Regions from separate parts of the Homo sapiens genome. Here region 1 is linked to region 2. A link means that fine-mapping ties the variant in region 2 to the expression of a gene that starts in the linked region. Tissue or cell type: whole blood. Region 2 holds a variant in brackets; the other region holds the start of a gene. All regions are shown on one strand. Distances are between the middles of the regions.

Region 1 (8,177 bases), 22 kb after region 2:
GTTTTTCCAAGGGCCAGGACCAGTCACTGTCTATGGTGTGGGCGCACAGCTTCAGAACCCTCTACGGTTTGCAGTTACTGCCTTGTAAAGAGGCTGTGTCTGCTTAATTTGTATCATCGATGTTACACCTGGAGGAATTTTAGCCAAAAGGCGACCTTCTCAGTTGAAAGGCACATTCCAAATGGCACCACACATCTGGGAAGGTGTCCTTTTCCAGAGTGTGTGAAAATAACGGGATGGGATCATCGCCCCATGGACCTGGATCAGGGCTGCCTTCCACACCGCGGTGGCACCTGCACGAGCCCACCTGCTTACTGCCACCTTCTCTCCTCACGCTTTCCTCCAGGCTCGGCTCCCGGGACACAAAGGCCGAATCGCCAGGACTTTCACTCAACCCGGCAACACCCTCAGAGCCATTCTGGGGGGTCCCAGTCTCACCTCTGCCCCACTCCCACATGGTGGCATCACGCACTGTCTTAAGTCTTAAGCCAGACTTCAACGCCTTCTTCACTTCCCATAAAACCATCCCAGAGGAACGCGGGGAGCAGCGTCCTGCCTGGGAACCAGGCGCTCCACATGACCACTGCACGCATGACAAAGACGAGCAGGGTCCAAAACAAAAAACAGAACGTCTCCCCAAACAGACTTCTCTACTGCCAGGATGATTTTTTCCTAATTAACCATCTTGATTAAAGTAAAAGGAAAATCAACATGAACATTCTTAAGAATTAATATAAAAGTTTCTAATTCCCTTGATATTGGCATTTCATAAGAGCTTTCCAGGAAATCTCGATAGTTCAGAGTGCACTGAGTGAAAAGAATGAATGCTGTGTGTCCTTGGCATCCCTGGTACCATTCAACAAACAATAGAAAAATGACCTCCTTGTGATAGTACTGACCCATTTCAGGACCTGGACAATAGTTCCAAGTCTCAGATCTTCTGTTTTTGAAAGAGAAAACACTACAGCATTTATACATCTACCTATCTACCTATACGGTTGCCAGAAAGTACCGAGACTCCGAGGACGGGCCATATGTACTTGGGGGAGCCTGCACAGGCACACACACCTCGAAAGCCACATCCAGGTGGCAGGGTAAAAACACCCACAGGGCCAGGAGAACTGCTGCTACCACACCCTGGGTCTCCTCACGTACTCTGCAGCTCAGGGGGGTCCTGCAGACCAGGTGCACAGTGACGGGTGAGTGAAAACGTTCTGGAGTACCAAGAGCTTTTACACCAACACATTTACTAAGCTGCCATGGGCTAGGAAAATATGGTTATAGCCTAAGGGGAAGAAAGGAGACCTCTGGCAATCAGAAGCGTCAAGCCTCAGATGTGCCCCTCCAGCGAGGTGTCCCAGGGTCCAGGGGTCCTATCCCGCTGCGAGTGGAGGGTTCCCTCTACCACCTTGTGACATGTCATTCTCTTTTGTGATCACGTTAATTTGGACATGAAAAAGTGACACTAGAAGTTGGTCCCCACACTGCTGCGGTGGCCTCATGACAGTGCCTGGACAAATCCATGCTTCACCTGAGTCCTGGCCGTGAAGATGCCTGGGGCTGCCCCGACAGGAAACCCTTGCCACGTCCAGAGGGGAGAGGGTTGGCTCCTTCAGTGTGCCTTTCAGCAGGGGCGTGTGCTAGGATAGAGGGCTCATTGAGGCCAGCAGGGAGGAGCACCTGGGAGGAGCCCCACTGCCGTTCCACAGGCTCCAGCCAGACTGTCCTGCTGAGAGGCCTGCGGTGGGGCTGCAGGGAGGGTCTGTGGTCCAGGCCTGGAGGGACCTTTCTCAGCAAAGCTCCTCAGAGGGAGAGGGAGGAAGAGCTGGGAGATAGCGGATCCTGAAGGGCTGCGGCACCCGCTTCCTTTTAGGAGCCTTCTACGACCTGACACTTGTTTCAAGTTTGGGCCCTTACACTGGAGAGCTAGCCGGATTCACTTGACACCAAGAGCCTCACATTTCCAAACCTCTGCTTTGTTGAAAATGTGGTAGGAAAGGCCATAGGGCATACAACCTCAAGAATAAAATAAGAAATGGAGCTGGGACACTAAGAGACGGCTTTTCCAGGGGTCACTAAGGGGGAAAGGTGTTTGGGAGAGAGATGTGTCTGCTGATGGAAGAGTGGTCACAGGTGCTCTGTGCCAAGCCTAGGGTACACAGAGGGCAAGGGAAAGACCATTCGGAGGGAGAAGCAAAGGCACCAGGCAACATGGACTGGCAAGGAGGTACCAGTCTCCAAGGATGAGAGAATCCAGACCGGATGGCAGTAGGGGTGTGAGACAGGTATGGTGGGGAGGGCGAATCATTTGCATGCAGGAAGATGAGAGTGAGCTGTGTGCCTGGAGGAAGGCTCCAAATTGGATGAGGGCAGGGAGAGCAAGGACTGGGATGGGGTGGGGAAGGTTGGCCTGTTACAGGTTTGACCAAGTGCCAGTCAGAGGGAGAAAATTCCCTTATCAGTCCAAGGAGACCCTGCATAGACCAGAGGAGGGGTATTTGAAGTCAGAAGGTGGTGGGAGGGGGTCATTCCCAGGAGGGGTGCCCCACACTAGCCAGAGCGGGGAGGCGTCCCACACTAATCAGAGGGGGATGGTCCCCACACTAACCAGAGGGGGAGGTGCCCCACATGAATCAGAGGGGGGTGGTCCCCACACTAATCAGAGCGGGGAGGTGCCCCACAGTAATCAGAGGGGGATGGTCCCCAAACTAATTAGAAGGGGGGTGTCCCACACTAATCAGAGCGGGGAGGAGTCACATAATCAGAGGGGGGAGGTGCCCACACTAATCAGAGGGGAATGGTCCCCACACTAATTAGAGAGGAGGGGTGCCCACACTAACCAGAGGGTAATGGTCCCCACGCTAGTCCCAGGGATGAGGTGTCCCAAAAGTCAGAGGGGGTGGTGTCCACCGCCTGTCGGAAGAAGGGGACTTTCCCACAGGTCAGAGGGCAGAGTCCCAGCCCAGTCTGCGAGTCAGGGGGCAGAGATCCCGCACGGGTGGGACGGGAAGGGGGCCTGACGGGTCAGGGGGCGGGACGCGGCAGGGTCGGAGGGCGGCGGCAGGCTCCGGGACGGGGGTCCGGGCCCGTGGCTGGGGCAGGGCGCCGGCGGCCGCGGGCGCAGTCACTCACCCGCTGCGGGGCTGGCTCCGGTGCCCGCGATCGGCGGGGCTTGGCTGGGCTTGGCTGGGCTTGGCTGGGCTAACGGCCGGGACGGAGGAAGGTGGCCGACTTCCGCCCCGCGCGCGCTCGCCCCGCCTCTGGGCCCGCGTTCCCGGCAGCCTCTGCTCTGCGGCTGCGCGCGGACGGCGCGAGGGCTGCTGGGAGCTGTGGTTTGTGTTTTTTTGGGTTTTTTTTTTGTTGTTTTTTTGTGTTTTTTTTTTCCGTCCTGCGCCTGCGCGCTGGAGGAGCGGCCGGCTGGCTGCAGGCTGGAGGGGCGCGAGGGTCCGCACTGGCACATGAGGGCCGTCTTCCACCGCGTTGCGCTGGAACGTGGGCCCAGCAGATCTTTTGGGGTGGGAGGCATTGAGGGGGGTGAAGGCTACTAGGGAGGGAAGTTCTCATTCTCCGAGCGAGGGCCCCCTTACATGGGCCTCCCGACCCTCGTAGTCTTGGGAGGCGGAAAACCGTGGGCCCCTTTCTGCCATCCTCATTCTCAGGCAGCCCCTCTCCTTGGCCCTTCAAAACAGCCGCCTCCAGAGTGCTGCTGACCAGTTGCCAAAGCCAGGATCAGGGAGGTCTAAGGCTGTAGTGTCCTGGGGTGGGGACGGTGGGGTGTTTCCCTGCAAAAAATCTGCAGTTGACAAACCTGCCAAACAAGGGTCTCTGATTTCTCCTTTCCCCTCCGTAGCCCTAGCCCCCGAGATATTTTAGGGCACTCTGTTAAAAGGCTTCCCCGGCCCCGCCCTCCTCCATCCCAAAGTTCTGAGAAAGGCCTGGTGGCCGTGGAGCCTCTGGCAGGAGAGCTTGGCAGAAGGGTGCACCAGCCCCCTGCCCATCTGCACCTTCAGCTTTCCTGCTTGATACCAGCTACTTCCCCCAGCTCTCTCAAAACCTTCCGTTCAGTAAAAGATACACAAGAGGAGGAATTCAAATTATATAAATGGTACGCAATGAAAAATAAGCCTCCCATTGCCGTTCTGTATTCCCTGCCCAGAGGCGATCACTAGATGTTATATGGTATCCAAACAAGTCATAAACACGTATCTTAAATTACCTTTAACTAAATAGAAATGTGCTAAACACTGTTATGCACTTTTGGTTTTTGATTTTGGAGAGGAGACAAACCTTTCTTGAATTCATTAATGTTTCTTGTCATGCTAAACTGAGTCCCAACCATGTCTCACATAATACTCATTATTGTCAGGCCTCTGAGCCCAAGCTAAGCCATCATATCCCCTGTGACCTGCACATATACATCCAGATGGCCTGAAGCAACTGAAGAACCACAAAAGATGACATTCCACCATTGTGATCTGTTCCTGCCCCACCCTCACTGATCAATTGACCTTATGACAATACACCCTCCCCACCCTTAGGATAATGTACTTCGTGATATTCCCTCACCCTTAAGAAGGTACTTTGTAATATTTTTCCCACCCTTGAGAATGTACTTTGTGAGATCCACCCCCTGCCCACAAAAAATTGCTCCTAACTCCACCACCTATCCCAAACCTATAAGAACTAATGATAATCCCACTACTCTTTGCTGACTCCTTTCTCGGACTCCGCCCACTTGCACCCAGGTGAAATAAACAGTCTTGTTGCTCACACAAGGCCCGTTGGTGGAATCTCTTCACATGGACGCATGTGACAATTATATTTGAATCTTTTATTTTCTAAAAGATCCACATGTGCCTTCCAGCTTAAGAAATAACACATTATTCCTGCATCTTTAAAACTCTCCAGGTTCTTCCTGTTCTGTACTCCCTGCTACCCCCAAGAGGTGGTAGCCACAATACTGAATGTTGTGTTAATCATTCTGTTGCCTTACTTTATAATTTTAGCACATAGGTATGTATCCCTAAACAATATATTGTTTAATTCTGTCTATTTTAACCTTTATAAAATGAAATAAAACTGTATGCAATAATTGAGAGATCCAGTGGCTCTCTCAGAGGCCTTCGAACCAGAGCAACACCATCTTGAATAAGGGCTGGGTAAATGAGACCTGCTGGGCTGCATTCCCAGGAAATTAGGCATTCTTAGTCACAGGATGAGATAGGAGGTTACAAGATACGGGTCACAGAGACCCTGCTGATGAAACAGGATGCAGTAAAGAAGCTGGTCAAAACCCTCCAAATCCAGGATGGCAATGAAAGTGACCTCTGGCTGTCCTTGCTGCTAATTATACCCTAATTATAATGTATTAGCATGCTGAAAGACACTCCCACCAGCACCATGATGATTTACAAATGCCATGGCAACGTCAGGAAGTTACCCTAGATGTTCTAACGGGGAAGAACCCTCAGTTCCAAGGAAATCTCCTCCCCTTTCCCAGAAAACTCATGAATAATCCACCCCTTGTTTATCATATGAGCGAGAAATAACCATAAAAATAGCCAACCAGCAGCCCTTGTGGCTGCTGTGCCCATGGAGTAGCCATTCTTTTATTGCTTTACTTTCTTCATAAACTTGCTTTCACTTTACTCTGCGGACTTGCCCCAGATTCTTTCTTGTGGAAAATCCAAGAACCCTCTCTTGGGGCCTGGACTGGAACCCCTTTCTGATAACATCTTGCTGAGAAACCATGAAGGGACAACACTGGAGAGACCTCTGACCCAAGGGAAATAGACTTCAGCACCAGTTGACCAACTTTGGGTACATGGTGGGGTATTTTATCCAGGGTAATGGATGGAATTGGGTTAGAGGCCCAAATTAGGAGAGTTAGAGTCCCTCCTAAGACACAGGGAGTTAGAGGCCCCTCTTTGTAAAGAACAAGAATGCTTGTTCAAACTTGGGTTGAAGGCTCAACTTCAGAATGTTAGAGGCCACCCTTAGTAAGAGCCCTCTTGGTTAAAAATGGATTCAGCACTGCAGGATGTTAACCGCCATTCTATTTGGATTAATTTGCCATGCCCTCTTTGCTGATGGCTGTGGGTGACAAGATTAGGCATGTGCAGGATCATGGGACCTGGGGAGCTTTTTTTCCTCCCCCAAAGGGGAAAACTTGAGAGCTGATGGGACTGCTGGAAAAGATCCCTTTTTGACAAGCAGCTGTCTGAACTTTTGATTCAGTGTCACTGTGATGGATGGGTCTTTCTCTGGCTTCTGTGAGCTCCTCACCTCTGCAACCCACCACAGGCAACACTCTTCTCCCTTCCCTTTCCTCTCTCTCGTTCTCGCCTTTCCCTTGTCTGTCTTCTCTGTCACTCTGGGTGATGATCTACTCTTCCATCTTGCCCAAAAACCACCTGTTGAAACTCCTGGTTGGCAGTCATTCCGCCCCCACTTTGAATGGATTAAACACTACAGGGGCCAATGGGGGAAGTTTTGAGCCTTGCCAGGTCGATATTGGGTGCTGAGGGGGGTGGCTAGTGTCTGTGTTTTGTCAAGTGCACTTTGTTCTGGCCAGAATGGAAAATGTTGATTCGATTCCTCCATGCAACTTGTTGTGTAGCATCTTGCAAAATTGAGAGGCTTTTCCTATGGTTCCATGAAATGGAAAAGGGTGATTTTTGCTTTGCGATGTGGCTTGGCCCCCACAGTTATGGTGCTGTGAGCAGGGTCACGAGGGCTGCTTAGGGAAAGGGATCCCAGAAACCTGGCATGCTGGCAAAAGGGTAAGAATTTCTTACCAGTCAGGCCTTTGGTCTCTCTCTCTCTATGCAAACCAGTTGAGTGAATGGTAAAAATCACTGTCTCCTCTGCAAGGTTTTGATGAATGGGAAAAAGGATTTGTGAGGCTAGTCTTAGGCTGTGATGAATCTGGTGTACTTTGTGCTATGAATTTGGCTTTCTGTGTCATTCTGTCATAAAAGGGGTATCATAGGATAGAATGTGGCCCTAGGACCCCTGTAAGCCCACTATTCAAGCTGGCCCAGCAAACTGGTCAGTTGACAACTTTGCTTCAGGTCACTGAAACAAAAACTGGATGAGGATTCCCCCTCGTCTTGTTTTATGTCCTTGGGAGCTTGACTTGTGACCATGGAGGGGTATTTTCTCTTGGTCTGTACCATCCCTGTGAGTCATGTTTTACAACCAAAATATATAAAAGAGCTCTATTTAATTGGCTTAAATAAAAATAAGCACTTAAATAAAATATTTTGCCAGAAAAATTAAAATGCTAATGCCTTTTTGTTCACATGACTTTAGTCATCTTTGGAAAAGCAAGGCAGTTTTAAAGATTATTGGTAAAATAAAAATGTCTTTGAAATTTAGACATTTGGTCTAAATTAGGCAGGTCAGATACTAGGTTTACTAAACTACTTCTCTGACTTTTGATAATTGTTCAATTTACCTTCTTTGGAGCCATTAGCGTCTATGTAAGGCCTGGGAACATATGGAGTTAGCCATGCCCCTAGCTATGCTGGAAGGGGTCAGACCTTATCTGCACTTTTGTCTGGTGCCCCAAGCTCTACACCTGGTACACAAATAAAATCACTTACCAAATTTTTCGCCAAAAATAAAAGTTGCTAAGAGTTAACATTGTACCATATGTAACTGAGGTTACTGGAGGAACACTTTTACATGCACAGTGTGTAAGGAAAGTATAATGTGTGTTTGGTAAAAGATTATAAGAAGGCATGGGAAGGCAGGGTGTTTTTGCCTGGTTTGGAAGTTTAAAGAGTTGTTCTTAGATAGGAGAAAGCGGAAGGTCTAAGCAAGTCGTGGAAGGTTTGTGAAAGTCTAATCTTGTAAAAGCAATTCTCTGTGTTAACATATTGGCTAAAGTTAAAGGAGTATTATTTGGTTTTTCCATAAATTGAACATTGGAATAAAAGCACAACAGGGTTTTCTTAGAGCATTGGTCTACTCTTTAACAAAAAAAATTGTAAAGGGTTATAAAAGCTTTATGAAAATCTTACATTATGGTCAAACTGATTGAAGTTAGGAAAATTTGTCTGTAAAGTTTTACTAGGAATTGAATTTGACATCAATAGTACACTCATGCAAAGATGAAATTTGGCTTTCTCTCTTGAACAAGATTTTCATGTAATATTAAAAGATAATGAAAG
Region 2 (8,153 bases):
ATTGATGTCTTATATCTCCCTAAAATGTATAAAACCAAGCTGTGCCCTGACCACCTTGGGCACACACTGCCAGGCCCTCCTGAGGCTGTGTCAGGGGCGCCCACGTCCTCAACCTTGGCAAAATAAACTCTAAATTAACTGAGCCCGGCTGGGCGCGGTGGCTCACGCCTGTAATCCCAGCACTTTGGGAGGGTGAGGAGGGCAGATCACTTGAGGTCAGGAGTTCAAGACCCGCCTGGCCAACATGGTGAAACCCCATCAATACCGAAAATATAAAAAATGAGCTGGGTGTGGTGGTGCACACCTGTAATCCCAGCTACTCGGAAGGCTGAGGCAGGAAAATCACTTAAACCTGGGAGGTAGAGGTTGCAGTGAGCCAAGATCACACCACTGCACTACAGCCTGTCAGGAGAGAGATTCTGTCCCAAATAAATAAATAAATAAATAAAATAAAGTAAATTAACTGAGGCCTGTCTCAAATTTTCAGGGTTCACAGGGTTGTCCCAGCACCATGGTGGGAAGACAGTCTTTTGTATTTCAGGTGAATTACCCTGGCTCTTTTGTCAAAAGTCAATGGGCCACATCCATAAGGGTCTATTTCTGGACCCTATTCTGTCTCACTTGTCGGTGTCTGTTTTTCTTATGGCAATACTACACTGTTTTGATTACTTACAGCATTATATTAAGTCTTGAAGCCAGATAGTATAAGTCCTTCAACTTTGCTTTTCTTTTTCAAAATCAAGTCTGTAGACCCATGAAGACGTATACTGTTTTGTTCTTTTGAGTCTCTGATTTCTTTCATCAGTGTTTTGTAGTTTCAGGATGTAGATGTCACACATCTTTTGTTAGACTTATACGTAACTATTTCCCGATTTTTGGTGCTACTGTAATTGACAATGTTTAAAAATTTTACAATTTCTAGTTGTTCACTGCAGTTATAATAAAGTTAAATTTTGTATGTGGAATTAATATATTAATATGTTAAATATTAATGTATTAAATTTAACATATTAATATATATTAAATATTAATATATTAAATTTAGTATGTGTAGTTTCGTGGTTTTTTTGAGACAGAGTCTCGCTCTGTTACCCAGGCTGGAGTATAGTCGTACAAATACTGCTAACTGCAGCCCCAATCTCCTGGGCTCAAGTGATCCTCCCACTTCAGCCTCCCATGTAGCTGGGACCACAGGCAGGCGTGACCACATCCAGCTAATCTTTACATTTTTTTGTAGAGACAGGGTCTTGCTATGTTGCTCAGGCTGGTCTTGAACTCCTGGGCTTAAGTGATTCTCTTGCCTGAGCCTCCCAAAGTGCTGGGATTACTAAAGGCGTGAGCCACCATGCCTAGCCTCGTAGTTATTTTTTGAAGATTTCTTAGGCTTGTCTAGCTAGTCAAAGCTTGTCACTGGCGAATAAAGATAGTTCTATTCCTTCTTTTCAAATCTGAATAACTTCCTTTTTTTTTCTTTTGCACCAATAGGATGAGGAATAAAAGTGATGAGAGCAATGTCAGTTTCCTGGGTTTGGTAAATGTACTGTGCTTAGGTAATCAGTACACTGGAGGGAGCCACATGAATGCTGCACAGAAACACGACTGCTGGCCCCGCTTATCTGCAGTTTCACTTACTGCAGTTTCAGTTACCCACGGTCAACTGAGGTCTGAAAATATTAAATGGAAGATTCCAGAAATAATTCATAAGTTTTAAATTGCATACTGTTCCTAGTGGGATGAAATATTGTGTCATCCTGCTCTTTCCCTTCTTCATCACAAGGGCGAGTACAGTACACTAAGATATTTAGAGAGAGACCACATGCACATAACTCTTATTTTAGACTATTGTTCTAATTGTTCTATTTACTATGTTACTGTTAATCTCTTACTGTGCCTAATTTATGAATTAAGCTTTATCGCAGGTATGAATGTAGAACAGTAAATTCCACATTATCTATGGTTTCAGGCATCCACTGCGGGTCTTGGAATGTATCCCCCACAGAAGGGGGATATGAACCAAAAAGTATCTGAGACTGTTCTCAACCAGTTAATTTTGCCAAGGTCAAGGATAAGGCCAGGGAGGCAAAACAAAACGTGACAAAACACGGAATCGCTGAAACAGTCTGTGGTCTGTGCCTTTCTCCAAAGGTGACTTTGAGGGCTTCCATATTTAAAGGGGAAAAGCAGGCTGGAGGGGGAAGTGGGAGGGTCCGGTCCTAGTGCTGCCGCCACGGGTTGCAAGAGAAGAGAAGCAGGCAGGGGAACAGTCAATCGTGTATTCATCTGGTGCTCAGTAAATTGGCACTTCACATAAGATAAGGTGAGCACAGTAGCTACCTGCCGAGGTCTTTAGCCTTTCCTCTGTCGCTCTCTGCTTAGGAACAAGAGGAAAGGCAGCTGCTTGCATGACTCAGCTCTCAGCTTCCTGTTTTTTCCTATTGGAAGGGTGCATTGCGGTTTTTATTTTCCTTTCATAGGACCTACTGTATTTTTGCAACTTCTGTGTGGTTCAAAATTTTATTTCAAAGGAAAAAATGGTGGGGAAGAAAGTGGTGAAAGCAGACACTCTTGCGTTGTTCCTCAGGGGGAAGGCATTCAGTGTCTGACCGTGAAGTAGGAGCTTAGCTGTGGACTTCTCACCGGAGCCCTTCATCGGGTTAAGGATGTTCCCTAACGGGTTTTTTGGCTTTTTGTTTAGAATTGGATTGGGTGAATGGCTGTTAGATTCTGTCAAATGCTTTTTCTCTATCTTTTGAGATTATCATGCTTTTCCCCCTTTTTAGTCTTTTTTTTTTTTTTTTTTTTTTTTGAGATGGAGTCTCGCTCTGTCGCCCAGGCTGGAGAGCAATGGGATGATGTCGGTTCACTGCAACCTCCGCCTCTCAGGTTCAAGCGATTCTCCTGCCTCAGCCTCCCAAGTAGCTGGGACTATAGGTGCGCCCCACCACCCCCAGCTAATTTTTCGTGTTTTTAGTAGAGACGGGGTTTCACCATGTTGGCCAGGCTGGTCTCGAACTCCTGACCTCAAATGCCCACCTCAGCCTCCCAAAGTGCTGGGATTACAGGCATGAGCCACCACACCCTGCCCCTTTTTAGTCTTCATATGAATTTCATTGATTGATTTCAGAATACTGAACTAACCCTGTATTCCTAGAATAAACCACACCTATCGTGAAGTATTCTTGTCAGAGACGTTTGAACCAGAGCCACTCCATCTTGAACCAGGTCTGGGTAAATTACGGCTGAGACCTGCTGGGCTGCATTCCCAGGAGGTTAAGGCATTCTTAGTCACTGGAGACAGAAGGTTGGCACAAGATACAGGTCATACCTTGCTGATAAAACAGGCTGGCCGGGCGCAGTGGCTCACACCTGTAATCCCAGCACTTTGGGAGGCCGAGGCAGGCGAATCGCGAAGTCAGGAGTTTGAGACCAGCCTGGCCAACATGGTGAAACCCCATCTCTACTAAAAATATACAAATTAGCAGGGTGTTGTGGCGCACGACTGTAATCCCAGCTACTCGGGAGGCTGAGGCAGGAGAATCGCTTGAACCTGGGAGTCGGAGGATGCAGTGCGCTGAGATTGTGCCACTGCACTCCAGCCTGGGCAACAGAATGAGACTCCATCTCAAAAACAACAACAACAACAAAACAGGCTGCAGTAAAGCCGGCTAAAACCCACCAAAATCAAGCGGCGATGAGAGTGACCTCTGGCTGTCCTCACTGCTATGCTCCTGCAAGCACCATGATAAATGCCATGGCAACATGAGGAAGTTACCCTCTATGGTCTAAAAACGGGAGGCATGAAGAATCCACCCCTTGTTTAGCATATCCTCAAGAAATAACCATAAAAAGGGACAGTCAGCAGCCCTGGAGCTACTCTGCCTTTAGAGTTGCTATTCTTTATTCCTTTACTTTTTTTTTTGAGATGGAGTCTCACTCCATCGCACAGGCTGGAGTGCAGTGGCGCGATCTCGGCTCACTGTAACCTCCATCTCCCAGGTTCAAGCGATTCTCCTGCCTCAGCCTCCTGAGTAGCTGGGATTACAGACATGCACCGCCACGCCCAGCTGATTTTTATATTTTTAGTAGAGATGGGGTTTCACCATGTGGTCAGGCTGGTCTCCAACTCCTGATCTCGTGATTTGCCTGCCTCAGCCTCCCAAAGTGTTGGGATTACAGGCGTGAGCCACCGCACCTGGCCTACTTTCTTAATAAACTTGCTGTCACTTTACTCTATGGACGTGCCCAGAATTATTTCTTGTGTGAGCTCCAAGAACCCTCTCTTGGTGACCTGAATCAGACCCCTTTCCGGTAACATTCTAATTTTTGATTATTGCTGAATTTGGCTTGCTAATCTGTGCTAAGGATTCTTTTTTTATTTTTTATTTTTATTTATTTTTTTTTTTTGAGACGGAGTCTCGCTCTGTCACCCAGGCTGGAGTGCAGTGGCGCGATCTCGACTCACTGTAAGCTCTGCCTCCTGGGTTCATGCCATTCTCCTGCCTCAGCCTCCCGAGTAGCTGGGACTACAGGTGCCCGCCACTGTGCCCGGCTAACTTTTTTGTATTTTTTAGTAGAGATGGGGTTTCACTGTGTTAGCCAGGATGCTCTCAATCTCCTGACCTCGTGATCTACCCGCCTCGGCCTCCCAAAGTGCTGGGATTACAGGCGTGAGCCACTGCTCCTGGCCAGGATTTTTACATCTATGTTCATGAGGGATACTGGTCTGTATTTTTTTTTTTTGTAATGTATTTTTCTGGTTTTGGTATCAGTATAGTGGTGCCCTCATAAAATGAGTTGGAAAAGTTTCCCAACTCCCAGAATCATGGAAGATTTTGTGTTGCTTTCGTATTATTTCTCCCTTACATGTTTGGTACAATTCAAAAGTGAAGCCATCTGGGCCAGGGGTTTTCACAGTGTGACGGTATTTTATTTTTGCTTTAACTCTTTTAACAGCATGAAGGGATAACTTACCTTGAGATTTATCAATTTAAAGTGTACCGTGGGCCGGGCGCGGTGGCTCACACCTGTAATCCCAGCACTTTGGGAGGCCGAGGCGGGCAGATCACAAGGTCAGGAGATCGAGACCAAACTGGCTAACATGGTGAAACCCCGTC[T/C]CTACTAAAAATACAAAAAATTTGCCGGGCACGGTGGCGGGAGCCTGTAGTCCCAGCTACTCGTGAGGCTGAGGCAGGAGAATGGCGTGAACCCGGGAGGCGGAGCTTGCAGTGAGCCGAGATAGTGCCACTGCAGTCTGGCCTGGGCGAAAGAGCGAGACTCCGTCTTAAAATAAAATAAAATAAAATAAATAAAATAAAATAAATAAAATAAAATAAAATAAATAAAATAAAATAAAATAATAAAATAAAATAAAATAGTGTACCATGGCTGGGTGCAGTGGCTCACGCCTGTAATCCCAACGCTTTGGGAGGTCAAGGCGGATGGATCACTTGAGATCAGGAGTTTGAGACCAGCCTGGCCAATATGGAGAAACCCCATCTCTACTAAAAACACAAAAATTAGCCGGGCGTGGTGGCGCACGCCTGTAATCCCAGCTACTTGGGAGGCTGAGGCAGAAGAATTGCTTGAACCTGGGAGATGGAGGTTACAGTGAGCCAAGATCGTGTCCCTGCACTTCAGCCTGGGAGACAGAGCAAGACTCCATCCCCCCAAAATAAAAAAAAGAAAAGAAAAAAAGTATACTGGAATACAGGATTAACACGTGGAATGAAAGAAACTGAATCTCGTTTTTTTGTCCAGTTGAGGTGACTGGAGAGTCTTCCATTTGCAGATGAGCTGTGTGCCGGACCCATGAGTGTGGAGCCGGCAGTCACTGCCCCACGAGTCCCGCATGTCACAGCTTCTTAAACAGATGGTCAAGAGCTTACATGCGGTTCCTTATCCCAACCCGCCGCGGCCCGATGCGCCCTGGCTTTTTCTGGAACTGTTGTTCTGTGGATCCTCGCCGAGAACGCCCAGTTCTCCTTGCTGCTCAGTCATGGAGTCTCTCTGGGGACCCCGCTGCCGCGCTGGTCCTTCTGCAGAGGCCGCCTCCCTGCAGCGCTGTCTTGGTCAGGCTCCCAGCAGGAAAAGACGACACCCGAATGAAGATCATCTAAGGAGGCTTCAGTGAAGGGACCATTTACCACGGATGAGACAGCAGGGCGTGCGGGCGGCACGAGGGGCCGCTGTAGCATCTGGAGCTGCTAACAGTGGAGCTGTCACTCCCATGTCACACTCCCAGGCCAGAAGAGACCAGGGGAGGGGACTCAGCCCAGACACTGGGAGTGGCACCAGGGGGCTGCCTTGAGAGGCGAGTGCCAGAGAGAGTCAGGGACTCCCCAGGGGCCATCCCAGAGGGCACTGAGGAGGTTCACTGGGTCTGGGACCCGGAGGAGGCGGGGAAGGAGAGTGGGTCTGAAGGGTAAGGGGTCGATGTGGGTGCAATTGCCCTTTCTGATTCCGCTCTCCCGGTTTTCTGTCCCTCTCTGGCCGCCCCTGTCCTGTCTCTAGTTGAGGTCTTTCTTGGCCAGTGCCTGCCTCCCTGGCGCCTGTGGTTTCAGTGATGGGGATTCTTCCATGCGTCACTTGGAGCGACCTCGTCTGTTCCTGTGGACTCACTGACACACTAAAGACACCAGCTCAGCCCTGACCTCTCACCTGAGCGCCTCCTTACCAAGTCATCCAGATGGCTCCCCAGGGATGAGCAGCAACAAAACGGGCACGTGGGTGCCCAGCACACGTCAGGTGATGTTCTAAGCCCCTTGCGCGTACCCAGTCACTTACCGTTCACTGCAGCCCCGGGATGAGCTCTGCGATGAGCATCCTTTTGCAGACGAGGACACTGAAGCACAGGAAAGTTAGGTCATTTGCCTAAGGACATGCAGCTGGATGGGGACAGAGCCAGGATCGGGCTTGCAGTGGCTTCAGACCCCACCTTTCTGACCACAGCGCTCGTGCTCTTGGAGCGCCTTGAGATAGTGGGACAAGGCGGACTGGAGGACGCAGTTTCCAGATGGGATGCCCTGGCGGGCGACTCCCGTGCGCATGCCCAGCATCCTGCGCAGGCGCTCTCGTGGCCAGGCCTCTGCAAACAGTCAGCACAGACCGGGAGACAGAAAACTACACTCCCTCAGACGCTTTATTGTTTACAAAACAGATGGATCCCATAGGGAAGGAACACAATCATTATGCTGACAGCAGCGAACAGAGAGGGGAAGAAAAAAGGTGAGCTTTAAAGTAATCGCAAATCACTGCCTATGCGAAGAGGCTGCTTCCGGGCACCTGGGCTGTGACTCAGGTGCTGACATGAATACATCAGCAAGGTCTCAATTCAGCCACAGTCCCAAGTCCCCCAACCTTCCTGATTGCATCTCTATTTTAAATGACCCAGCCTGGACATCAAGGACAATGATCTAGGAGGCGGGTCAAGGAGACAGCCAGGCAAAGTCAGAACAGACTTGGGGCTTCCAGGCTATGCCCGGTGACAGCTGAGCTCTTCAGAAATGCGTCACATTCAGCGTTCACTTCCTTCGCTTCCTCCACTACCTATGACATAGCGGGGGAAAGAGACAACCATGAGAGAGGGGTCCCTCCTCGCTGCCCTCCTCGCAGCTGTGCTTGAGTTTCAAAGGGGGAGAGGTTTGTGAGGGACCGGCACAGGGACAGCCAGAGCCGGCACCCTCCGGCCCACCGTGGCACCCCTGACGATCGCGGGGTGGGGTAGGAGTGAGGGTGGGGGTCGGGGTGAGGTAGTGCTGTGGGGAGGGCACTGTGAATGATGGAAACGTCCCTTCTCAGCCTGGGTCGTGCCTAACCTGGGTCTCAAATCCCACTCTGCCTTCACCCTGGAGTACACTCCAGCGAAGCCGAGGCCCAGCCAACGCTCGTGAAGTTTCCACAGAGAAGAGCCTGCAAAACTCCCACTGGAAGAGGAGAAATAAAGGCCATGGAAAGAAACCCCAGGGAAGAGACAGGCCTCGTTCACAGACCCTAGGCAGGGAATAAAAAATTCAAGTCATTCACAGAAGTCTTGAAAGGCATGAGGATTTCTGACAGTTCCTAGAAAAAGGCAACATTTTCTTTATCTTTGTATCCATTGGCCAAGAACGCCGACATGTGAGACTTGCTTCACCAGCCGCCACCGCTTCCTTACA

Evidence for each region. PIP is the estimated chance that this variant, and not a neighbour inherited with it, causes the effect.
Region 1: CANT1 starts here. The variant in region 2 is fine-mapped to the expression of CANT1 in whole blood (TOPMed, PIP above 0.99).

Annotation. Positions count from the first base shown.
Region 1 is chr17:79,006,532-79,014,708 of GRCh38, forward strand. It overlaps CANT1 (calcium activated nucleotidase 1), which reads right to left and starts at 3,233. Exons shown (of 5, transcript NM_001159773.2): 1 at 3,133-3,233. RefSeq lists a silencer at 2,953-3,332 and an enhancer at 3,573-3,622.
Region 2 is chr17:78,984,596-78,992,748 of GRCh38, forward strand. It overlaps CANT1 (calcium activated nucleotidase 1), which reads right to left. Exons shown (of 5, transcript NM_001159773.2): 5 at 7,121-8,153. Among named protein-coding and RNA genes, the nearest start is that of LGALS3BP, 8.7 kb to the left of the region's middle. The variant T/C (reference allele first, on the strand shown) is at 5,115.